7 linked regions of the Homo sapiens genome follow. The protein of the gene in region 2 purifies or fractionates together with the protein of the main gene of each other region. This does not show direct contact. Each region holds a gene or a part of one and is shown on either strand. Other genes may lie near its edges. The genes, in order: YEATS2, POLE4, MAP3K7, NUP133, ZZZ3, ISY1-RAB43 and ISY1.

Region 1 (3,500 bases), on a different chromosome or scaffold from region 2:
TCCAGTTATGATGCATTATGCTTTTAATACCCTGCTGGATTGGATTTGTATGTGTATTTGCAGTGAAAGCTTGTTTGCCATTTTCCTCTGATGGTGACTTTTGACCACATTTCCATAGGTTTGGAGATACTGTGTTCTCGTTAGTTTTTAAATAGTCTGTTACTTTAGTTTTAATTTCTTCTTTGAGTCATGAGTTATTAGAAGAGTGTCTTATTTTCCATATCATGGTGAGCTAATATTAATTTTTATTAAGATCAGAATGTGGCTGTAATATTTCTACATTTTGCAGTAATTTGAGACTTTCTTCATATCTTACTGTATGATTTACATTTTATGAACTTTTTTTTTTTTGAGACAGAGTCTCACTCTGTTGCCCAGGCTGGAGTGCAGTGGCGTGATTTCGGCTCACTGCAACCTCCACTTCCTGGGTTCAGCAGTTCTCCTGCCTCAGCCTCCCAAGTAGCTGGGATTACAGGTATCCACAACTATGCCCAGCTAATTTTTGTATTTTTAGTAGAGACGGGGTTTTACCACATTGGCCAGGCTAGTTTCAAACTCCTGTCCTCAAGTGATCCACCCACCTTGGACTCCCAAAATGCTGGGATTACAGGCATGAGCCACTGCATCCGACCTTAATGAACTTTTATAGATATTTTTAAAAGATTTTTTTCTGTTGGGTTCAGAGTTGTGTGTATTTGTTAATTCTGGCTTGTTAATTACCAGATATATATCTATATCATCTTTTTTGTTTGTTGTGTTTGTTTTGTTTGAGACGGGGTCTGGCTCTGTCACCCAGGCTGGAGGTGCAACGGCGCGATCTCAGCTTAACTGCAGGCTCCATCTCCTGGGCTCAAGCAATCCTCCTACCTCAGCTGCCCAAGTAGCTGGGAGTACAGGTGCTTGCCACTACTCCTAACTAATTTTTGTATTGTTTGTAGAGACAGGGTTTCACTGTGTTGCCCAGGGTGGTCTTGAACTCCTGAGCTCAAGCGAGTCACCTGCCTCAACTTCCCAAACTGCTGGGATTACAAGCGTGAGCCACCACGCCCGGCCTATCATCTGTATTTTTATAAATTGTCTTAATCTTTTAAATTTTATATAGAGATGTGTGATTTCTTAAACTTTCCTTTTTCTGTTTGTTGTATGTATTTTGATACTATATTGTTGGATGTATAGTTTAAGATGTATTTTTGTGATTGTGCCTTTAATAACATCATCTTTATCATGTTATTTTTTTTGCCTTGAATTCTATTATTAATATTGCCTTGCTTACTGTCTTTTTGTTTGCATGTGTCTGTGTATAATAACTTTGTACATTCTTTTAAACATTTAGCTAAAGAGCCTTTAAAGATGTAGCAATATCAACAAATAGATTAATGATGAAAACTAATGTAAGGTAGTAGTTATGTTCCCTGTGGTCATTTATATTTTGGCAGATATTTTAGTTAATCCTTCATTTATGGCTGGGCGCAGTGGCTCACGCCTCTAATCCCAGCACTTTGGGAGGCCGGGGCAGGCAGATCACGAGTTGAGGAGATCGAGACCATCCTGGCTAACATGGTGGAACTCCATCTTTAGTAAAAATGCAAAAAAATTAGCCAGGCATGGTGGCGGGCGCCTGTAGTCCCAGCTACTCGGGAGGCTGAGGCAGGAGAATGGCCTGACCCGGGAGGCGGAGCTTGTAGTGAGCCAAGATCGCACCACTGCACTCCATCCTGGGTGACAGAGCAAGACTGTTTCAAAAAAAAAAAAAAAATCCTTCATTTATTTTTCCAGATAGTAATATTGAGCACTTCCAGGAACTTTGGAGGGAGAAGGTAGGGAGAGCTGTGTTGGATGGGGCACGGTCAAGGAAGGCCCCTGATAAGGGGGAGATTTCAGCTGGAATCTGATTAAGCTAACCTAAGAAAAGAGCATTCCAGATAGAAGGAGCCATGATTCCAAAAGCTCAAAGGAAAATTGGGAGTATATTTGAGGGATAGAAAACCAACCTGTCTGGATCTTAAAGATTAAGGATGGAGAGGGAGACAGGGCGCAGTTCACATCTCTTAGGTCATGTTAAGGAATGGAAATTTGTTCTAAATGTTATGAAAAGCTATTTGAAGGATTCAAGCAGGGGATGACATGATCAGAAAAATATTCTTATTGTCCTTTTCTAAAGTGAGGTATAGTTTACAGACAGTGAAATACAGATTTTGCGTGTACAGTTGGGTGTTTTTGCAATTGGATATACATACCCATCTAACCTACACTCTTATTAAGATTAGTGGAGCACTGTGGGAGGCCAAGACGGGCAGATCACCTGAGATCGGGAGTTCGAGACCAGCATGACCAACATGGAGAAACCCCGTCTCTACTAAAAATACAAAATTAGCCCGGCGCGGTGGCGCATACTTGTAATCCCAGCTACCCAGGAGGCTGAGGCAGGAGAATCGCTTGAACCCGGGAGGCGGAGGTTGCCGCGAGCTGAGATTGTGCCATTGCACTCCAGCCTGGACAACAAGAGCGAAACTCTGTCTCAAAAAAAAAAAAGTTAGGTGGAGCATTGGTAATCCAAAAATCTGAATCTTAAATGCTCCAAAATCTGAAACTTCTTAAGCACCAACATGATGCCACAGTGGAAAATTTCACACCTGACCTTGTGACTGGTCAGTTAAAACATAGTCAAAACTTTGTGTTATGTTTTGAATTATTTAAAATGTTGTATAAAATTACCTTCAGGCTCTGTGTGTAAGATATTTATGAAGCGTAAATGAATTTCATGTTTAGATTTGGGTTCCTTCCCAAAGATATCTTACTATGTATATGCAAATATTCCAAAATCCAAAACAGTATGAAATCTGAAACAGTTCTGGTCCCAGGCATCTTGGGTAAGGAATACTCAACCTGAATAAAATATTTCTAAGAAAAAAGTCTTCATTCCTCTTCCCAGTCAGTCCCTAACACCAGCACCTCCAACTATGATTCTCATTTCTTTCACTATAGATTAATTTGTCTCTTCTAGAACTTAAGTGGGATAATTTAGCTTGTACTCTTGTGTTTGCCTTCTTTGGCTTGCCATAATGATTTTGAGGTTCATTTCTGTTGTTGCCTGCATCAAGAGTTCATTGAGTATACCACGATTTGTTCGTCCATTCCTCTGGTTTGGACTTTTGAGACATTTTTGAAATGTCATTGGCTAATGGAAAATGGATTGTAGAGTCTTATTCAGATATTTAATAAAGGAACACTGGTTGTCTTGTTTACAAAAGAGAATGTATTTTCTTTTAAGACTGTAGAAAGGACAGGGCCAGGAACTATGAAATCATTATCAGCATCTTAGGAATGCCTGTCTGTATGGAAGCAGATAGAAAATGATTGTACTACTCCCCTTCCCCACCTATTTTTTTTTTTTTTTTTTTTTTTGAGACGAAGTCTCACTCTGTCACCCAGGCTGGAGTGCAGTGGCGCAATCTCGGATCACTGCAACCTCTGCCTCCCGGGTTCAAGCAATTCTCCTG
Region 2 (3,500 bases):
GAGTACAGTGGTACGATCTCAGCTCATTGCAACCTCTGCCTCCTGGGTTCAAGTGATTCTCCTGCCTCAGCCTCTCGAGTAGCTGGGATTACAGGCTCGCACCACCACACCCCAATAATTTTTGTATTTTAGTAGAGATGGGGTTTTGCCATGTTGGTCAGGCTGGTCTTGAACTCCTGACCTCAGGTGTTCAAGGTCCACCCGCCTCAGCCTCCCAAAGTGTTGGGATTACAGGCGTGAGCCACCGCGCCTGGCCCACTTTTTATCTTATCTATTCTCTGGAAAACTTATTGAAAGATTGGAATTATTTTGTTTTTGAATATTTGATGGAATTCAGTGATGCTGTTAGAGGGGTTGCAATGCCAAATTTGGTTATTGTATAATTTAGATTTTCTGTGTTCTTACTGAATTTCTTCTGTCTGCTTATTTTACCTGTTTCAAAGAGTTATGTGTTAAAACTCTACTGCTATGATTATGGACTATTTCTACTTATATTTCTGGGTCTATTCTTTCATTATATATTATGAAACCATGTGATTAGATATATACAAATTTAATGTTGTTATATATTGTTGGTGATTGAGCCTTTTATATTTGTAAATTGGCTATTGTTATTTCTAACTGCTTTGAGCCCTAAAGTCTATTTTGTTTAATATTATTAAAGCTTATCAGCTTTCTTTAGTTAGTATTTATTTGCACGGTACGGATTTTTGTAAATCTTTTAATTTTTATCTTTCCATATATTTGTGAACAGAATTTAACTGGATTATTTTCCTAAATTCAGACAGTCTGTGTCTATAACTGGAGCACGTCATTTATTTATGTTTAATGTAATTGGTCATATCTATGAGTTTGAATTCTATTGTCTTATTTTGTCCTGCTTTTTATTTGCTTGTTTTATGTTTTGTTTTTTTTTTCTCTCAATTTTTGGCCTTCTTTTGGATTATTATTTGATTTTTTTCCCTCTATCAGCTTGGAAGTTATATGCTCTATTTCTATTCTTTTAGTGATTATCAGTTACTATGTAAGTCCTTAATTTATCAAAGCCTATTTAGTACCTTTCCCCTCATTCTCAACAAATTGAGATCTCAGGATCCATTAACTCAATTTTCAAATTCCTCGTCTCCTAATTTATGTGCTGTTATTGTCATGTATTTTTGTTTTGTCTTTGTCAATCTACATAAGGCATTTTTATTCCTGAATTATGCAGTCAATGATATATGGATTTAGTCACATACTACCTTTGCTTTTCTTTCCTTTCTGGATTATTATTATTTTTGAGACAGTTTCATTTCGTCACCCAGGCTGGAGTGCAGTGGTGCGATCTCAGCTCACTGCAACCTCTGCCTCCTGGGTTCAAGTGATTCTCATGTCTCAGCCTCCCAAGTAGCTGGAATTACAGGCATGCACCACCAAGCCTGGCTAGTTTTTTTTGTATTTTTAGTAGAGATGGGGTTTCACCATGTTGACCAGGCTAGTCTCAAACTCCTGACCTCAAGTCATCTGCCTGCCTTGGCCTCCCAAGTGCTGGGATTACAGGCGTGAGCTGCTGTGCTTGGCCTCCTTTCTGTATTTCCGATCCTCCATTTGTGATCATTTTCTTCTTCCTGAAATAAATCATTTAGAACTTCATTTAGTATGGTCTGGTAACTGACTCTCTCATTTTTTTCTTATGAAAATGCCTTGAATTTCATTGTTGGAGGATAATTTGTTGAATATAAATTCTAGGTGGAAAATTATTTTCTTTTAGCACATTGAAGCTATCATTTTACTGCTTTTTTTTTTGGCTTCTATGTTTTCTATAGAGAAATTACCTGTTTGTAATTCTTTTGAAGCTAGTTTATCCTTTTTGTTTTTTGTCTGCTTTTAAGATTTTCACTTTGATTTTCTGTGGTTTCACTCTGATGTACAGAGGTGTGGATTTCTTTTTATGTAGTTTGTTTGAGCTTCTTGAATCTATAGATTAATGTCTTTCATCTGTCCTGGAAAATTCTCAGCGAGTGTCTCTTCAGCTATTGGCTCTGCCTTGTTCTTTCCTGTGTCTCTCTCTGGGATTCCCATTAAATATATGTAAAAACTCAATCATAATTTTGCCTCTCTAGTATGCATTCTGTGTAATTTTTTCTGATCTTCCAGTTTATTCTCTCCATTTGTCTCATTTCCTTTAAACTATTTTTTTTGTTTTTTTTTTTTAGTTTCAGTTTTTGTATTTTTCAGTACTGTGAGTTCTGTTTGGTTCCTTTCCAAATCTGTTGTCTTTTTTTTTAGCTTAATAAAGTATCAAGCAATTTTTGTGAGTACTTTTTGTTGTTCTTATTTTCTGCAGGTATTTTGAAGTTTGTCTTTTAGTTCTGTAAACATAGTAAACACAGTTGTTTTATAGTGAATGTTCCATCCAATATATGACCTAATATTCAAAGCCTTTTGAGTTTTTTGTTTGCTAGTCTGTGCCGAATCTAACATCCATAGTCTCTTGAGACTGTCTTTTTGTCTGTTGTTTCTTTTGGTACTGTCACATGGCCTTTTATCCCCCTATATGCCTATCTTTGGATAATGGTTATTTTCTTTAAAAAGTATTTGTTAGATAAGTTGAGGCCATATGGTGATACTTTCTCCAAAGAAAATTTCCATTTGCTCCTGAAGCCACCTACAGCCATTATCAGTGCAGGACTTCTGAATCCAGATCTAAGACTTGAAGGTTTCTGGACTATCATACTGATATGAACTCAGGCTGCAGGCCTGTGAAGGGGCACTGATTAAATTCCAGTTCGTCCTTACTCTGAGGGGGCAGCCTTTTGGGCTCTAGCTTAAGAAAGATGGGTGTCAGACTTCCTTACTTGGGTAGACTCAGGGATTTGACTCTTGGTTCCTTCAGCCTACACAAATAACCGCCCAGTTTCTCAGCTTTTTCAGATTGGCAGATGTCATGAGAGCAGAAGTAACATTAGAGGCTGGGTTTGTTTTGTGTTCTTACTGTCTCTAGATTTCACATTTGCTTTTTCTTGATGTCTCTTCAATTCCTGAAGATTTCCTTTTCTTATATATTTTATTTAGCTTTCTCAGTTGATCTCAACAGGAACTTGCCATTATGAAAAGCACCTCTATTTTTTTTTAAATTAGAAGTGTTTTTGCTTTATTTTTCTTATGTTTTTATTTTCCCTATATTATCTAGGTCATTAAAAAAAGTTTTGGTATCCTTTCAACTGTGTAGCTTTCTTCAGATACCTGGTGATTTTCATTCTATTTAAGAATAAGGGAATAAGGCTGTTTGGTAACTGTGTGTGTGTGTATGGGATGAGGGGGTGGTTGTTGCCTGGCAGCTTTGCTTTAGGGTGAACAGGGGTGGGACCAGATGTTGTCCTGGGTGACCCCGAGGGTATGAATGCAGAATGCTTTGCTGTGGGAAGCTGGCAGTTTTAGAGGCTGTTCTAGTTTTCTCCATATAGTTCATTTGGTTCTTTAGAAGAGAGCCCTGTGATCTTTGTTTTTTTTTTTTTTCC
Region 3 (3,500 bases), on a different chromosome or scaffold from region 2:
TAATTAGAAACTGTAAAAAAAATAATAATTCAACTACAGGCCAAATATGCAGCCATTTAGTAGATACATATTTCTAAGACATTAGCTGATCTTGCATTTCTAATATTGTAACTCAGTAGTATTAGTTTGGCACATCTTAGATTCAATTCAATTCAGTCAAATTAGGTAAGGTCTCAGCCTCAGAAATCTGCCTAGGTACTTTTTAAACATCATTTAGTGTTTACCATCTAGAACTGGCTGTAGAGAATGTTGGAATAAAAGAGGGGATGGGTTGCAAGAAGTGTTACACAGGGTAGTATAGTGGAAAGTGTTCTGGACTGAAAAAGAAAATTTAGATGCTGTACTGATTCTGCCATAATATATTTTTGTAACTTTGAGGAAGTCACCACATTTTTCTGGGCCTGTGGTTACTCATGTAAACTGACTGAACAAGATCATTTAAGGTCTTTTCCAGTTCTAAAATGAAAACACATTCATGTTTTCCAGTATTTAACTGTTTTCTATAGTAAGCTTAGCAGTTCTTTAAAGACTGATCATGGTCTCCTATAGAATTCAGTTGGTGACCAACTAATCCTGGGTTGACAGGGCAAATGATATCCCATTGTACAGATATTGACAAGCAGTCATAGAGTTTGACTTGCCAGAAGCCGCATGCCTAAGTAAATGGTAAAGCTGGGAATTGAATATGAGACTTCTCACTTGTGAGTCAGTTGCCCTTTCCACTGGATTTACAGTGTCACTCAGTACTTTCTGAAGTACTCTATAACCAAACCTAATATGGGAAAGGGGAAACAAAATACTGATTTCCTTTTTAGTGTAGTTGGTCCTGAGCATTTAATGAACATTCTCATCTGTGCGTAATACTCTGAGGTACTATAAAAGATAAATAGGGCTTGGTGCGGTGGCTCACACCTGTAATCCGAGCACTTTGGAGGGCCAGTGCGGGCAGATCACTTGAAGCCAGGAGTTCAAGACCACCCTGGCCAACACGGAGAAACCCCGTCACTACTGAAAGTACAAAAATTAGCTGGGTGTGGTGGCACAGGCCTGTAATCCCAGCTACTTGAGTGGCTGAGGCATGAGAATCGTTTGAACCCAGGAGGCAGAGGTTGCAGTGAGCTGAGATCATGCCACCGCACCCTAGCCTGGACAACAGAGGGAGACTCTGTCTCAAAAAAAAAAAAAAAAAAAAGATGATAGAAGAATCCTAGGATTACCTCCTTAAAATGTCTGACTTAGTATGATATCAGACTGGAGTAAACACAGAACAGTTAACTATAGACCACAAATTTAAAACTGAATATAGTGTAAATTAAACACTTAAGCCATAATTTGAAAATAGAGTTAATCACAGAAGGTTCCATTGAGTAGGGACAAGTTTAAAACTAGGTTTTGAATAAAGTGACCATCGTGGGTTGGGAAAGTCACTAAGATGAATTTTCTTTGTAGTTGTTCCTCTGCCTAAAGCGCTGTTCCCCCATAACTTAAGATGACTGACTCCTCACCAGTCAAGTCCCACCTCAAATGTTATTAACACTTCCTTAGAGAAGCATTCCCTGAACAACCTAGATCTTTTGTCATTTCTATTATCTTTCATGGTACTTACCAGTAACTGAAATTGTGTCTCTCCTTCAGCAAAATGTAAGGCGCTTTATTCACTTTTGTAACCCCAATGCCTAGAACCTAGAAGGTTCTCTATACATATTTGTTCAATGAGTACATGAAAGTATCACAGCATAATCATAAGAATTAAATGCCCATCTTGTTCTCTTATATTACATGTGATAAAATAGGAGCTGAGTTATGCGATTTGGCTAAGGCAACACGTTAGAAATGAGATCCGAGTCTTGTTTTAATGTCGACTCTATTATAGTTAGCAGATACTTTTGTTTAGCAGGGATAAAAAATGCTGTAAAGGGCCAGATGCTATGAGTAAGCCACGTATGGTAGGTCTTTACTACAGAGTGCTAAAAAGACACTATTTACAATGGTTGCTTTTGAAAAGGGAGACCCATAATGCTGACCTCAACTATAGTGTAGGAACAAAGCTATAGTATTGGACACATAAAATTACTGCAGCATTTGTATATATTCTTCAGCTTTGTTAAGGAGACACACAAAAGTTTTGTTTTAAAAGCTAAAATATGCTACAAAGAGGAGATATAGATAGAACTTAAACAGTTATATGTACTTTGTAGGTTTAAGTTATAAATATATGGGGAATTGGTATTAGAGAAAAACCTAATTTATAGTGGTCTAAACAAACTGAGTACATAGATTTGTTAGTCACTATTTAATTATGGATACCTAAAATAATCAATACATTCTTTCATGTGAAAGTGACCACTGATTTCAGTAGAAATCTGGAATTACTATAGTTAAGAGGTAGCTACAGAGATAATTTTTGCATTGTACACGTGTAGCTTAAAAGATAGCATGAGCATATTATTTGAAATAAAAGCCTAGAAAATGGGTGAGATGTACTGTGGCAGGTATTAAAAGACTGCATGAAACATTCAGAAGAAAGTTTGAATAATCAAAGCTTTACTTTTATGTTATCAAATCCATCTTGTCAGCAGATGGCAGTTCCACTCTGCCACAGTTTATTAATAGATATTGAAGTTCTAACATAGTTGGAGGCTCCAAGTCCTAACTAATAAATGTATGATCTATGCTTGTTCTGTCTTGTTCCGCATTTCCAGCCAGAACAATGCCAGCATCACCAGGGGTCCATTCAGATAGTTCATAGAACAGGGCCAAATGAAACTGACAGCTGTAGTCACTGAACTAAAAATAACATGAATTCAGAACAATTAAAAGAATTATTTAATAATAAATTAAGAGCACAAAGGCATACATCCTTTTCCATTTAGGTTAGGTGTGTGTTTGGTTGTTTTCTTTAACATGACTTGTCTGAAGGAATGGAGTCATCTTACATCATAAAGAAATTAATTTTTAAAGGAATTTCTTTAAAAATAACACACAAACACACAAAACCTGATTTTTGTTTTTGTGCCTTTCAATAGTAGTTGCATGGAAATGTTCTATATACCATCTCATATTCTTCTGTATTTTTTATTAAGAAATTAAATTTAAATCTACTTAATTGTATGAGACTAAAGTTGTAGACCCAAAACAAAGAGGTTTCAACCATAGGGGGAGAAATGCTTATCATAAAGTAATTAATCAAAAACATTTTGATTTAGAAAACATTCATAAATTTAGAAGGAAATATTTCCAAATTGACCTCCCTTTTAAAACCAAAGTCCTTTTTGCATTCCTCTGTTTTTTACAAATGAAGGATTATGAAGAATATCTGAAATATTTATTTGTATGTCACCATTTTAGTTGGATGTGTGTGATGGGGAAATACTTGTAACTTGATATGTTCTCTTTTTTACTCTTGATGAAAATTCATCTTTGGGGAAAAAACAGTCATTTAAAATAATGTTGGGCTAGGTACGGTGGCTCACACCTGTAATCCCAACACTTTGGGAGGC
Region 4 (3,500 bases), on a different chromosome or scaffold from region 2:
TACACTAACATTAATGATAGCTGATGAGTTAAAAAAAAAAAAATTTATGTTTCAAGCAAGTTTACGAATTTGTGTTGGGCTGCATTCAAAGCCATCCTGGGCCGCATGCAGCCCATGGGTTGTGGGTTGGACAAGCTTGGTCCATACCAATTATTCATATACTTATTGAAACACTATAAATAGCATCAAATGATCAACCAAAGTCATACAGAAAAGGTACAGGTAATTCAGGGATTATGTTGTAAGTAAAATAATTTGGACATTTCATCATAATTAACAGAATCTTTTTATAGGTTTGCTCTTACACGACTCATCACAGTGTATACTACCTAAGCATAATGGTTGATTACAAATTTAAACAACGGTTTAGAAAAATTTTAAAGAAATGGAATACTATAAAATTGCTTCAGAATGTATAACAGTATTATAATAACCATACAATTACAAAATAGATATTAATCCTTTTTTGTAATCGTATTAATTACAAAATACAAGGTATTTTGTACTTTGTATAATTTTGTATAATTACAAAATACAAAATGCAAGGTATTAATCCCTTTTGTGAAAAGAAAAAAAAGTTAAAAATTGTTTCTTTCCTTTAAAACTACACTTAATCACTTTAATTTGAATTACAGAGGTAGTCTATATATTTCATACACTATTCAAATGGAAATTACCCCAAACAGTATTAATTATTTTTAGTCTTCTGTAAAAGAATGATAAAAATCTTATGGATAGGATATTTCAGGTTTCAAGACAACAGAATAAAATTGGTAATTTTTACCTGGCTATTCCTCTCAAAAAATCATCCCAGAATAAAAAGAAACAGAAATACAAGCTCCTTGGAAATATCTGTGATACTAACTACAACAAAGGAAGATAGAAAGCAGAAGGAATGGGAAATGGCCCCGCTGACAGGAGATGAGGCCACCTATGCATGGTGCAGAGGACAGGTCCTGAGGATTTGAGGACAATAGAAAAGGGAAGTTCTGGGATGACAGCTGTGCAGATGGAAGGTTTCTGGAGACTTGACTTTGGGAAAAACTACATTGAGGGGCACTCTACAGAACTCCTGGAGTGTGTAAAAAGATTAAGTCACATATGAAAGGAAAGTGAGAAAATACAAAACGAGGTCATTATACACTCCAAGAGTCACACAAAGTTCTATAATAAAGGACATGTAATCAGTATTTGGGATCAGCAAACCATAAACAATATTTACATTGTCATTACAATGAAAAAAATTTATGTTAGAATGATAAAGGCAGAGGAAGGAGTATAAGGTAACCCAAAACCTCATTTTCTGTAGTAGAAAATCAACAGATGCATCAGGAGACAGGAATATATGTACATTACTTAGATATATGGAGAAAAATACCAGAATAAATCACTAAAAGGCTTAAATGTAGTTGCTCCAGGCAAAGAGGACAGAAGGGATGAGGAAGATAAAAAGAACTAATGTCTGCATCATTACGTCTTTGAAAACTGTCTCAGTTTTGAGACCATTTGTATAAAATAATCTGATAAAACTAAAAATTAGGCTGGGCATGGTGGCTCCACGCCAGTAATCCCAGCACTTTGGGAGGCCGAGGCGGGAGGATTCTTGAGCCCAGGAGTTTGAGACCAGCCTAGGCAACATAAGGAGATCCTGTCTCTACAAAAAATAAAAAATTAGCCAGGTGAGATGGCGCATGTCTGTAGTCCCAGCTATTTAGGAAGTTAAGAGGGGAGGACTGCTTGATCCCGGGAGGTTGAGGTGAGGCTGCAGTGAGCTATGATTATGCCACTGCACTCTAGCCTGGGCAACAGAGTGAGACTCTGTCTCAAAAACCAAACCAAACCAAAAAACAAAAAATTAGCCAGGCACCTACTGGGAAGTCTGAGGCAGGAGGATTGCTTGAGGCCAGGAGTTTGGGGCTGCAATGAACTACGACTGTGCCACTGCACTCTAGCCTGGGTGACAGCGTGAGACACTATCTCTAAAAAATAAATAACATAAAAACTTCAAATTCTTATCGAATCACATTACCTCACTGTTTGGTCCAGCAACTGAAGATGCTAAAGACCCTTCCAAGTCTTCTGCCAATATAGACACATTTTCCCTTGAAGTAATAGACACCAGTCCACTGTTTCTAGAAAAAATGATAGGAACACCACCACAGGCACCAGCACCTAAAACACTATCTCCTAAAAGAAAGGAAAACAGAGTCAAATACATCTAACAATAACAACAAAATGCTATGTAAAAGCTACCACCCTAAGCAGAAAATCATCTTGATGATATATTAAGCACATTTTTTCCTTTACAACATTAGTCCTACTTCGAACTCATCCTTTACATCCCAGAATCAAATGCTAAGAACCGGTTGCTATCTGAAGAAGCAGGCTCTGTGTCTTTCAGCTTTAAGGACAATAAAAACTAGCCTTGCCAGACAGCAGTCAGTCTAGTAAGCCAAAAAAGAAAATTATTCCTTCTGCAAAACTCAGAAGAAGAGCTTTTTCAATCCTGTGGAGTTCTCTTAATTCTGACTTTAACTTACCACATCAGTCAATGGGGACTGGAAAAAAAAAAAAAAAAAAAAGGTCTAAGCCTACCTGGCACCTTAGTAACATCCTACCCACCCTCTGTCAAGGTTCTTGTGCTGGGACTAGAAAACCTGGGTTCCATGCTGTTGCCTACCTGCACTCTGTCCTCTGCCCAACCCCTTCAGCTAAGTATCTGCTTGGTTCTTCTTCAATCCTGACCAGCCCCCCTGCATAAGTCCAGCACCTGAAGCTCTTCTTATCTAGGGGTGTGGAAAAGTTAAAGCATCAACTCAGAATATGTCACTTTTACTAACTAGGAATAAGCAATTACTTCTCTTGGCAATAGTTTTTTGCTTCTTGGCATCTTCTCCTGGAACAAATGTTACTATCTTTGTCTGTAAATATAATAGTTTGGAAATTCTAGTACCCTTTTGGTTTCTTAGTAGGGTTATGGCTTCAGCTGCTGTAGTTGTGGTATGAAATGTCTCAGAAACATTTGAAAGCAGCATGCTTGAAGTGACATTCAGGGAAAGAGAAAAAAAGCACTCAGAATGACTAATGAGCTCACCAATCATGCTTTCTAAAACTGCTACTGTACCTTGTGCATTAAAGACAATTTTCTCCTGGGGAAGAGAAAATTTCCCAGTTCCTGTGGAGCACACATAGACAGCACTTTCGTTATACAGATAGGCAGTCTGGTTTGAAAAGTTTGGGACCGTCAACTGACACAAAATCAGGTCTTCAGACTGAAAGTTAAATTTAAGATTACATTTAACAAGAAGTAAAACAAAAATATTTGTATGATTTTTTAAATTCATTTTTGTACATTATTTCATAAAAATATTTCACCAATTCTCTTTGTAAAAATCTGAACACTACCCATGAGATGATTAACAAAACATGACAGAGTAAGTTTATAAACATCAATTAGACATATATTTTGTTGACTTGCTTATAATTTGCTTTTTTAATTT
Region 5 (3,500 bases), on a different chromosome or scaffold from region 2:
ACTGTACTTGTTGGTTGGGGGTTTTTTGACAAGGGTCTCACTGTGTCACCCAGGCTGGAGTGTAGGGGCGCAATCTGGGCTCATTGTAGCCTCAATCTTTTGGGGTCAAGTGATCCTTCCACCTCATCCTCCACAGTAGCTGAAAGTACAGGCGCACGCCACCACACCAGGCTAATTTTGTGTATTTTTTGTAGAGACGAGGTCACACTATGTTGCCCAGACTGGTGTCCAAATCCTGGGCTGAAGCGATCCTTCCACCTCAGCTTCCCAAAGTGTTGGGATTACAGGCATGAGCCACTGTGGCCAGCATAGTACTTTTAAGTAGTTTCACATTTTATCTCTGTTCAAAAAGGGGGAAATTTTCATTTAATGCAACCAAATTATGTGGTATGGAAAAATCTTATTTCAAATTCTGGCTGACAAGAAAAGGAATTATAAAACATTGTTTTGTTAAAAAATAAACTTTATTATCCTCAACTTACAGTAATCTTAAAAATAAATAAGGAAACAAACACCACAATAAGAAAGCCAAGGCAAAAGATATTAAACATATCACAGAATCATCTAAAAACAATATGAATGTTCTTAAGGCTTGGGGTAAAAATAAACAATTTAAAATAAAAATGATTAAAATGTAAAAATGAAGCATAACAAAAAAATGAGAAAAATTAAAAAATTAAATAAAGCATTATTTAACAGAGTTGAGAAAATTACCAATTTGGAGGAAAACATTTAGATTCTCATTTCACACCAATGCCAGATGAGGTAAAAACTTAAATTTATTTAAATCTAACTTAGAAAAACTAAACAAACAGAATTAAACCAATATTGTTTATTACAGTTCTGAAAAGGGAGGAATTTCATAAAATCAGCAGAACAAAATTATATCAAGATGTTTGGGCCAGGCACCGTGGCTCACCCCTGTAATCCAGCACTTTGGGAGGCCGAGGTAAGTGGATCACCTCAGGTCAGGAGTTCCAGACCAGCCTGACTAACATGGTGAAACCCCATCTCTACAAAAATACAAAAATTAGCCGGGCGTGGTGGTGTGCATCTGTAGTCCCAGCTACTCAGGAGGCTGAGGCAGGAGAATTGCTTGAACCCGGGGGGTAGAGGCTGCAGTGAGCCGAGATGGTGCCACTGCACTCCAGCCTGTGCAATAGAGCAAGATTCTGTCTCAAAACAAACAAACAAAAAGATGTTTGACTGCAATAATGTTAAAATCTATTTATCTTCAAAGTTCACAAGATAAATACATCTATAAACATGCTTCACCTCAGTAATTAAATAAATAAAGCACAATATGTCATACACCCCCATTAAACCTTTATAAAAAATGTTAAATGTTGATGAGTATAGGGTAACAACCACTCGAAAGAGAATACAAATTTATCCCTTTTGATTAATATTGTTCAGTATGTTTTAAGAGCCTTCAAAATGTACCTAAAAAATCAATTCTGGCAATATACAAGAGAGAGATAATACTATATACAAGAAACATGTATAAATATGTTCTTCACATAGGGGAATAACATATGTTCACTGCACAGAACATTTTACAATCATTTATAATGATAGTTATTAAGATGCATTGTGAGAATGGGAAAGTGGTACCTAACAGTAGGTTAAAAAGCAGGACATGAAATTAAATGTTTTTACCCACAAATACATAAAAAATATACATTAAAATAATGGAAGAAATATATCAAAATGCTAATAATTGTTATATTAATTCCCAAAATCTAATTCCTCAAACCAGCTTTCAAAATCATTAAAATACATACACACCCCTTATACACAAGTCAAAGACTATCTACTTTACCACTAATGGAAGCATAAGGTTTAAATTAACATAGTAAATGAGACAGAGGAGGCCAGCAATGCAATGAAAAAAACTCACTACAAAAACCTGGCACCTTAGGACACTTGGGCTAATAGACTCAATACCAGGATTCAAAACTATACAACTGAATCATATGCATAGGTCATTTACTAATTCTAATTATCTGCTTTACTATCTTCTCCATTAGCAAATGTGCTAATCTTTAGGCAATTGGTTGTTCATTACTGATATCAAATATTAAATGTAATAGAGCCTTGTTTGGGAGTAATTCCTTGAAATATTAAGTAGAAAGATAAATAGGTTAAAATAATAAAACAAAGGAAGTTCCATACACAGTAGCACCATTTTTATTTGGTGTCATCTGATAAGGAGAGATCTACACGTAAATTTTCCAGAAAATTGAAACTTAACATTTAATTAACAGAGTTTTGAAAATGGTTACTTTTATAGCAATCTCAAAAGACACCAATTTCTTACTTCCTTAAACATAGTACACAGAATAAAAGTTCATTATTAAAGTTATCATTGTGATGCATCAACTTACTAGGCTGCTCTACGATACTGTCATTCCTTCAGAAGTTAATGATTATAGGAGTGTATGTATTTATGTAATGGCCTTAAAACACTATTCTACTATAGTTCCACCTACTTTTTAATAGTTCTTCCTTTTCCCCTGTAGATGACATTTCAGCTGCCAATGTCCCTAACTCCAATGGCCAACACTGAAGATTTTTATCTGTGGACTAATTCCAATTAGTAGTTTCCTAATAAAGGCTAATGGCTTATTATACTTGGTTGCAGTCATTTTGAAGGCTTAGAGATTTTTTTATGTCCAGGATTGCTGTTATGTTTCAAATGGCTGAGGTCATTAGCAATAAATGTCAGCTGAATTACTGCCTCTAACTTACAAATATACTGAAGTTCCAAAACAACAGTAATAATAATATCTGAATAGTTTGATTAATCACAAAGTGATATTCTCCTCAAGGCAAGTTAGTCAACTCACTCCTCTCTAATAAGACAAAAATTACCTACATAAATGAGAAAAATCAGCTGAAAAGAAAAACAGAAAGGTGAGAACGAAAGGGTCAAACAAAATAATCAAGACTTTGGACTTTGGGAAATATTTACTGAGAGTGGTTTTCAGAGTACAATTATAGTGGTTATCAGAGCATTAACTACAGAAATTTGCACCAGAGTATATACCAAATCTCTAGTAAATACTACTATAAAAATGAAACTCTTCTAGCAACTATTTCTTGTAGGTGACTCCAAACTGAATTTTCATATGAAATTTAGGTGTTTTTATTTTATTTTTGACACAGGGTCTCACTCACTCTGTTGCCCAGGCTGGAGTGCAATGGTGCAATCACAGCTCACTGCAGTCTCAACCTTCTGGGTTCAAGCAATCCTCCCTTCTCAGCCTCCCAAGTAGCTGGTACTACAGGCGTGCACTACCAGGCTAATTTTTTTTCTTTTTTGGTAGAAACGTGGTCTGACTATGTTGTTGCTGGTCTCAAGCAATCCTCCCACCTCGGCCTCCCAAAGTGCTTGTATTACAGGCGTGAGCCACCAGGCCCAGCTTAAGGTAACTTAAAGTTACAGGTCTGTGGAAATTGGCATGGTGTCAGACCTTAAGGAAAAAACTCAAGTGAGA
Region 6 (3,500 bases), on a different chromosome or scaffold from region 2:
ACTGCTTGAGCCCAGGAATTCAAGACCAGCCTGGGCAACACAGTGAGACCCCGTCTCAATTTACCCAGATCCTCCTAGATGGTATGAGATGACTTCATTACATTCCAAACAATCTGTTAAATTGCTCCTTGACCCAATTTCTAGAATAATTTTTTAAAAGTCTCTACATGGTTGACTTTTGTAATGTGGTTATAAGGAAGACAAAAAAAAAAAGAGTCTGGGCCAAGCGCAGTGGCTCATGCTTGTAATCCCAGCATTTGGGAAGGCCGAGGTGGGTGGATCACCTGAGGTTGGAAGTTCAAGACCAGCCTGGCCAACATGATGAAACCCCGTCTCTACTTAAAAAAAATACAAAAAATTAGCTAGGCGTGGTGGCGGGGGCCTGTAATCCCAGCTACTCGGGTGCCTGAGGCAGGAGTGGCAAGCGGAGGTTGCAGTGAGCCGAGATTGTGCCACTGTACTCCAGCCTGGGCAACAAGAGCGAAACTCCGTCATAAAAAAAAAAAAAAAAAAAAAGTCTGTAAAGATCTAAAATTTCCTTGGTAACCTTAATTGATGTAGCAACCAGTTTCAAAGTGTGAAACTTATTTGGATCCTGATCTCAACAAACTGGAAAAAATAAAACACATATGAATTTTATGGGCAATTATAAATCTGAATACAGACTGGCTATTTTATATTATTAAGGAAATGTCAGTATTTTTAGATGAGAAAATAATATTGCTGTTTTTAAGTGTTTAAATATTTTGTAGGTTCATGCTGGAATACTGCCAGGTGAAATGGTTTGATGTGAATTTGTCTCAATAATCCGAGGGAGGGGAGGTGACATGGTACAGATGAGAGGAGGTTGGACTTCAGTTGCTAATTGCTGAAGCAGGGTAATGGGTACCTGGGGGCTCATTATTATACTATTCTAAGCCAGATATAGTGGCTCACACCTGTAATTCCAACTACTTGGAGGTTGAGGCAGGAGGATTGCTTGAGGCCAGGAGTTCAAGATCAGCCTGGGCAACATAGCAGGACTGCATCTCTAAAAATATATGTATGTATATAAGTATGCATAAATAAATAGATAAAATACTATTTTCATAGCTGTATAAAATGTTCTATAGGCCGGGCGCGGTGGCTCACGCCTGTAATCCCAGCACTTTGGGAGGCTGAGGCGGGTGGATCACGAGGTCAGGAAATCGAGACCATCCTGGCTAACATGGTGAAACCCCGTCTCTACTAAAAATACAAAAAATTAGCCAGGCATGGTGGCGGGCGCCTGTGGTCCCAGCTACTCGGGAGGCTGAGGCAGGAGAATGGTGTGAACCCAGGAGGCAGAGCTTGCCATGAGCCGAGATCGCGCCACTGCACTCCAGTCTGGGCGACAGGGTGAGACTCTGTCTCAAAAAAAAAAAAAAGTTCTATAATAGAATGTTTTTTAATTAATTATTTTTTGGAAGACAGAGTCTTACTCTGTCGCATAGGCTGGAGGACAGTGGCACGATCTCGGCTCACTACAATCTCCGCCTCCCAGGTTCAAGCGATTCTCCTACCTTGGCCTCCGCAGTAGCTGGGATTACAGGTGTGTGCCACCATGCCTGGCTAATTTTTGTATTTTTAGTAGAGATGGGGTTTCACCATGTTGCCCAGGCTGGTCTTGAACTCCTGAACTCAGGCAATCCACCCACCTCAGCCTCTCAGTGTTAGGATTACAGGTGTGAGCCACCATGCCAGGCTGGAATGTTTTTCAGAAATGTCCTGGATAAATGGGAATTGGTGGCTGGGTGTGGTGGCTCACACCTGTAATCCCAGCACTTTTAGAGGTCGAGACGGGTGGATCACGAGGTCAGGAGATCGAGACCATCCTGGCCAACATGGTGAAACCCAGTCTCTACTAAAAATACAAAAGTTAGCCAGGTGTGGTGGTGCGTGCCTGTAGTCCCAGCTACTCAGGAGGCTGAGGCAGGAGAATTGCTTGAACCCGGGAGGCGGAGGTTGCAGTAAGCCAAGATCGTGCCACTGCACTCCAGCCTGGCGACAGAGCGAGACTCCGTCCCCCACCCCCAGCAAGAAAAGGTGGGGAAATGGTTAGGCTACGTGAGGAAAGCTCTGTTCATGCCAAGCACTCCATGTCCTAGTCTGAACAGGCTGTGGAAGGCAGGCCACATGGAACCAGGCACCACCCTCTTCCTGGCTGGAGTCAGGTCCAGGCCCTGTCTGTACATTTGAGTCAGAAGAATCAACCTGTTGGCCCAGCTACTCGGGAGGCTGAAGCAGGAGAATCGCTTGAACCAGGGAGACAGAGGTTGCAGTGGTTTTGCAGATCTTGCAGAACCAAGATCACGCCACGGCACTCCAGCCTGGGTGACTGAGTAAGACTCTGTCTCAAAAAAAAGAATCAACCTGTTGGGGTGAGGACCCCAGGGATAACATAAGAGCTAAAGAGCTTCTCCAGTCCAGGTCTGGGAAGGTTATATAGAAGGAAAACAAAGGTAAACAGCATCCTTCCACAGCAGCAGTTCTCAAAGTGGGATCCTTGGACCAGCAAGGTGGGTGTCACTTGGGAATTTGTTAGAAACGCACATTCATGGGCCCCACCCAGCCCGCCTGGATCAGATGCTCTGGAGGTTGAGGCCCTGCAGCTGCACTTGAAGAAGACTTCTGTGGGATTCTGAGGCACGGAAGCCATCAAGTGTCCCTGCTCTGTGTGCGGCACAACAGAGAAAGCCACAGACTTGAGGTCAGCAGAAGCAAACTCAAAGCCTACATGTGTATGCTCACAGGCCATGTGGACCCGGATAAATCACTGCACTTTTCTGAGCCTAGCCCCAGCCCCTGTCAAATGAGGAGAAGCCGGGGTACAAGAGCTAAATCTTGACACATGTGAAGAACAGCAGAGCAAACTTCAGCTCTCTTTCTTCTTTCCTCTAATTCCAATTTTGAATATAACTTTCTTTTTTTTTTTTTTTTTTTTTTTTTTTTGAGACGAATCTTGCTCTGTCACCCAGGTTGGAGTGCAGTGGCGTGATCTCAGCTCACTGCAAGCTCCGCCTCCCAGGTTCATGCCATTCTCCTGCCTCAGCCTCCCCAGCAGCTGGGACTACAGGCGCCTGCCACCACAACCGGCTAATTTTTTTTTATTTTTTTAGTAGAGACGAGGTTTCACTGTGTTAGCCAGGATGATCTCGATCTCCTGACCTTGTGATCCGCCCGCCTCAGCCTCCCAAAGTGCTGGGACTACAGGCGTGAGCCACCGTGCCCGGCCTTGAATGTAACTTTCTAAGTGATTAGCAGGATCAGGATTTGCAAAACCATGGCTCAAACTCTGGCTGGGACTCCCTCTGAACTCAGGGTTACACTGTGTTTAAAAAGCAGAGGGAGGCATGGACAGGCAGAGTGATGGGATTTGTGGTCCCGAGGAATCCCCAACTCACCGATCAGCAGCTGCACAATGTTGGAGCCCGCATACTTCCTCACATCCTCAATCCAGTGAGGCACCGACAGGAAGGAGC
Region 7 (3,500 bases), on a different chromosome or scaffold from region 2:
AATTAGCTGGGCATGGTGGCGGGCACCTGTAATCCCAGCTACTTGGGAGGCTGAGGCAGGAGAATGGCGTGAACCCAGGAGGCGGAGCTTGCAGTGAACTGAGATCGCGCCATTGCACTCCAGCCTGGGCAACAGAGTGAGGCTCTGTCTAAAAAAATAAAATTAAAAAATAAAAAATAAAAAAAAAAAGAAGAAGAAAATACAAAATTAGCTGGGCATGGTGGCAGGTGCCTATAATCCCAGCTACTCGGGAGACTAAGGCAGGAGAATGGCGTGAACCCAGGAGGCGGAGCTTGCAGTGAGCTGAGATCACGCCATTGCACTCCAGCCTGGGTGACAGAGCGAGGCTCTGTCTTTAAAAAAAAAAAAAAAGAAGAAGAAGAAAATACAAAATTAGCCGGGCGTGGTGGTGCGTGCCTGTAATTCCAGCTACTCAGGAGGCTGAGGCAGGAGAATTGCTTGAACCCAGGAGGCGGAGGTTGTGGTGAGCTGAGATTGCGCCATTGCACTCCAGCCTGAGCAACAAGAGCGAGACTCCGTCCCACAAAAAAAAGAAAAAAACATGCTGGGATTACAGGCATGAGTCACTGCACCTGGCCAGCTTTTATTCTTTCACCAATCTGGTTGGTTGTCATTTTGTTTTTCATTTTTAATAATTACTTAGCCGGGTGCAGTGGCTCACACCTATAATCTTAGCACTTTGGGAAGCCTAAGCGGGTGGATCACCTGAGGTCAGGAGTTCGAGACTTGCCTGGCCAACATGGTGAAACCCCATCTCTACTAAAAATACAAAAATTAGCTGGGTGTGGTGGCGGGTGCTTGTAATCCCAGCTACTCGGGAGGCTGAGGCAGGAGAATCGCTTGAACCCGGGATGCAGAGGTTGCAGTGAGCCAAGATCATGCCATTGCACTCCAGCCTGGACAAGAGCGAAATTCCATCTCAAAAAAAAAAAAGAATTACTTAAATATTCTGGATTGTAGTCCTAGTCTGAAAATATCTTCTTTAGGGCTTTCTCATGTATCTTTTTTGTTTGTTTCTAGCTTCTTTTGTCTTTTTTATTTACTTATGTTTCCTGTCATGCTTTTTCATTAAACATTATGACAGTTCCTGTGTTATTAAAATACTTTGTGAAATAGCATTACAGGGGCTGCAGGATATCCCATCCCATACATATTCTGCAATTTACAATCATAGGTTATTCCCAAGTTTTCTCTATTATATAAATAATACTGTGATGCATATTTCTGTACATGAAGCTTTTTGCTATCTCGTGTTTGGTTTTTGTTTTTTTTTTTTTGAGATGGAGTCTCGCTCTGTCGCCCAGGCTGCAGTGCAGTGGTGCAGTCTTCGCTCACTGCAACCTCTGTCCCCTGGGTTCAAGCGATTCTCCTGCCTCAGCCTCAGGAGTAGCTGGGATTACAGGGGCCCCCACCACCATGCCTGGCTAATTTTTGTATTTTTAGTAGAGATGGGGTTTCACCATATTGGCCACGCTGGTCTTGAACTGCTGACCTCGTGATTCTCCCGCCTCGGCCTCCCAAAGTGCTGGGATTACAGGCATGAGTCACCGCACCCGGCCTGGTTTTGTTTTTTACTTAGGTAGATTGCTTTTAAACGGACAAATGGGTCCAAGTACTGATTTTAAAAAGGGCTCTACCACTTAAATAATTCCATGAATAGTATAGAAAAGTGTCTATCCATGGTATTTTCTTTTTCTGTGTGATGGAGTCTTGTTTTGTCGCCCAGGCTGGAGTGCAGTGGCGTGATCTCGGCTCACTGCAAACTCTGCCTCCTAGGTTCAAGCGATTCTCCTGCCACAGCCTGAGTAGCTGGGATTACAGGTGCGCACCACCACGCCCGGCTAATTTTTGTATTTTTAGTAGAGACGAGGTTTCACCATGTTGGTCAGGCTGGTCTCGAACTCCTGACCTTGTGAGCCACCTGTCTGGGCCTCCCAAAGCGCTAGGATTACAAGCATGAGCCACTGCGCCCACCTGGTATTTTCATGAACATACGTGCCACGTGTGTGTATAGCGTTGCATCAGGAGACAGCTTCGCTGGAGTGTGATTATGACTTGGAAACTCAGCTCCATTTCTGTTTCTTATAGCTCTTCCTCCTCCCAGAAAGACACGTGCTGAGCTCATGAAGGCAATCGATTTTGAGTACTATGGTTACCTAGATGAAGATGATGGTGTTATTGTGCCTTTGGAACAGGAATATGAAAAGAAACGTAGGTCTCTGGGCATTTTATTTCATAATAGATGGCATCTGTTTTCTGTTGTGTCCTTTGAAAACAGGATTTTCAATAGTGCTTTATGCCAGAAGGGAGTTTTCTTTGTTGCTAATGATCTTCAGGCGTGATGGTCTGCTAATTCCCTGACCCCTGTGAGGCAGTCAAAGCTGTGTGGGCCAGAGGTAACAGGTTGGGGAAGCCATGAGAGCCACGTCTGACCGGTCCCTGTCTGCTAGGAGGTCACCATGTGGATTCGTGCTAATACCAGTGCCCATGTGACACATCAGGCCAGGACTTTGGAAGCAAGTGGTCTGGAGCTGGAGCTGCTTTCTAGCATGCTCTGCCCCTGCCTTCTCTCTTTTCATGTGGACATGTTGGGAATCCACTCAGGTTGTGGAAGTGGGGAGGATTTGGGAATGTTCCCTAAAAAGCTGCTTTGTAGTGACTGAAGGCCAGAGCTGTTGTAGGACTACCATGCTTCACATCCATTTCCACCCACGGGGGCAGAATGAAGGGTGTCCCTTTCTAGAGGGGATGTCTAGACTTTCCCTGCATAGTGTTGGCCTTTCCCTGCATAGTGTTGAAAGCTCATTTAGAGACAAATAAATAGCACCTACCCTCTCTTGTGTTCAGTCAGAGCCGAGTTAGTGGAAAAGTGGAAAGCAGAGAGAGAGGCTCGGCTGGCAAGAGGAGAAAAGGAAGAGGAGGAGGAAGAGGAGGAAGAGATCAACATCTATGCAGTCACCGAGGAGGAGGTATTGGGGTTGGCCCCCTCTGGCACTCACTGCCATCTGTTCCAAGCCATGAAGTGTGGCAGGGAGGAAACTTGGCTCCCAAATACAGAGTCAGGGTTCACAGCCCAGCTTGCTCACCTGCAGGATGGCTGTGAAAACACTTGCGAGATTACAGGAGGGTTTCAGGAGGCAGCAGCCATGAGAGTGCCCTGCCGGCCGTGCTTTACACCAGGGCTTCCTTCTTTCCTTCTTAAAGACAGGCCCTTCTGCATACACTAGAATTAGACTGATAAACACAGAGGAAGCCATGAGCTTTAGCCCATGACCTCATCACTTCTGTTCACGTGTCAGTGGCAGTTGCTCTTCTGTAGTCTAACACCCCCATCTTTTTTATTTTTTTTGAAACGGAATCTGGCTCTGTTGCCCAGGCTGGAGTGCAGTGGCACAATCTTGGCTCACTGCAACCTCTGCCTTCCGGGTTCAAGCAATTCTTCTGCCTCAACCTCCCAAGTAGCTGGGACTACAGGCGAG

The links.
Region 1: the proteins of POLE4 (region 2) and YEATS2 purify together in Homo sapiens (affinity purification with mass spectrometry; 2 studies listed by BioGRID and IntAct, with this or other methods). This does not show direct contact.
Region 3: the proteins of POLE4 (region 2) and MAP3K7 fractionate together in Homo sapiens (co-fractionation; one large-scale study listed by BioGRID). This does not show direct contact.
Region 4: the proteins of POLE4 (region 2) and NUP133 fractionate together in Homo sapiens (co-fractionation; one large-scale study listed by BioGRID). This does not show direct contact.
Region 5: the proteins of POLE4 (region 2) and ZZZ3 purify together in Homo sapiens (affinity purification with mass spectrometry; one large-scale study listed by BioGRID and IntAct). This does not show direct contact.
Region 6: the proteins of POLE4 (region 2) and ISY1-RAB43 fractionate together in Homo sapiens (co-fractionation; one large-scale study listed by BioGRID). This does not show direct contact.
Region 7: the proteins of POLE4 (region 2) and ISY1 fractionate together in Homo sapiens (co-fractionation; one large-scale study listed by BioGRID). This does not show direct contact.

What each region holds. Positions count from the first base shown.
Region 1 is NC_000003.12:183,704,297-183,707,796, forward strand, and holds part of YEATS2 (YEATS domain-containing protein 2), read left to right. Parts: intron 1-3,500. UniProt on the Homo sapiens protein: Chromatin reader component of the ATAC complex, a complex with histone acetyltransferase activity on histones H3 and H4. YEATS2 specifically recognizes and binds histone H3 crotonylated at 'Lys-27' (H3K27cr).
Region 2 is NC_000002.12:74,965,143-74,968,642, forward strand, and holds part of POLE4 (DNA polymerase epsilon subunit 4), read left to right. Parts: intron 1-3,500. UniProt on the Homo sapiens protein: Accessory component of the DNA polymerase epsilon complex. Participates in DNA repair and in chromosomal DNA replication.
Region 3 is NC_000006.12:90,580,573-90,584,072, reverse strand, and holds part of MAP3K7 (mitogen-activated protein kinase kinase kinase 7), read left to right. Parts: intron 1-3,500. UniProt on the Homo sapiens protein: Serine/threonine kinase which acts as an essential component of the MAP kinase signal transduction pathway. Plays an important role in the cascades of cellular responses evoked by changes in the environment.
Region 4 is NC_000001.11:229,484,342-229,487,841, forward strand, and holds part of NUP133 (nuclear pore complex protein Nup133), read right to left. Parts: intron 3,273-3,500; coding exon 3,125-3,272; intron 2,188-3,124; coding exon 2,030-2,187; intron 1-2,029. UniProt on the Homo sapiens protein: Involved in poly(A)+ RNA transport. Involved in nephrogenesis.
Region 5 is NC_000001.11:77,676,159-77,679,658, forward strand, and holds part of ZZZ3 (ZZ-type zinc finger-containing protein 3), read right to left. Parts: intron 1-3,500.
Region 6 is NC_000003.12:129,091,564-129,095,063, forward strand, and holds part of ISY1-RAB43 (ISY1-RAB43 protein), read right to left. Parts: coding exon 3,462-3,500; coding exon of another isoform or gene 3,423-3,461; intron 1,031-3,422; coding exon of another isoform or gene 951-1,030; exon of another isoform or gene 937-950; intron 1-936. Other genes in the region: RAB43 (ras-related protein Rab-43), read right to left, coding at 3,423-3,500. UniProt on the Homo sapiens protein: Component of the spliceosome C complex required for the selective processing of microRNAs during embryonic stem cell differentiation. Required for the biogenesis of all miRNAs from the pri-miR-17-92 primary transcript except miR-92a.
Region 7 is NC_000003.12:129,133,564-129,137,063, reverse strand, and holds part of ISY1 (pre-mRNA-splicing factor ISY1 homolog), read left to right. Parts: intron 1-2,109; coding exon 2,110-2,232; intron 2,233-2,868; coding exon 2,869-2,990; intron 2,991-3,500. Other genes in the region: ISY1-RAB43 protein, read left to right, coding at 2,110-2,232, 2,869-2,990. UniProt on the Homo sapiens protein: Component of the spliceosome C complex required for the selective processing of microRNAs during embryonic stem cell differentiation. Required for the biogenesis of all miRNAs from the pri-miR-17-92 primary transcript except miR-92a.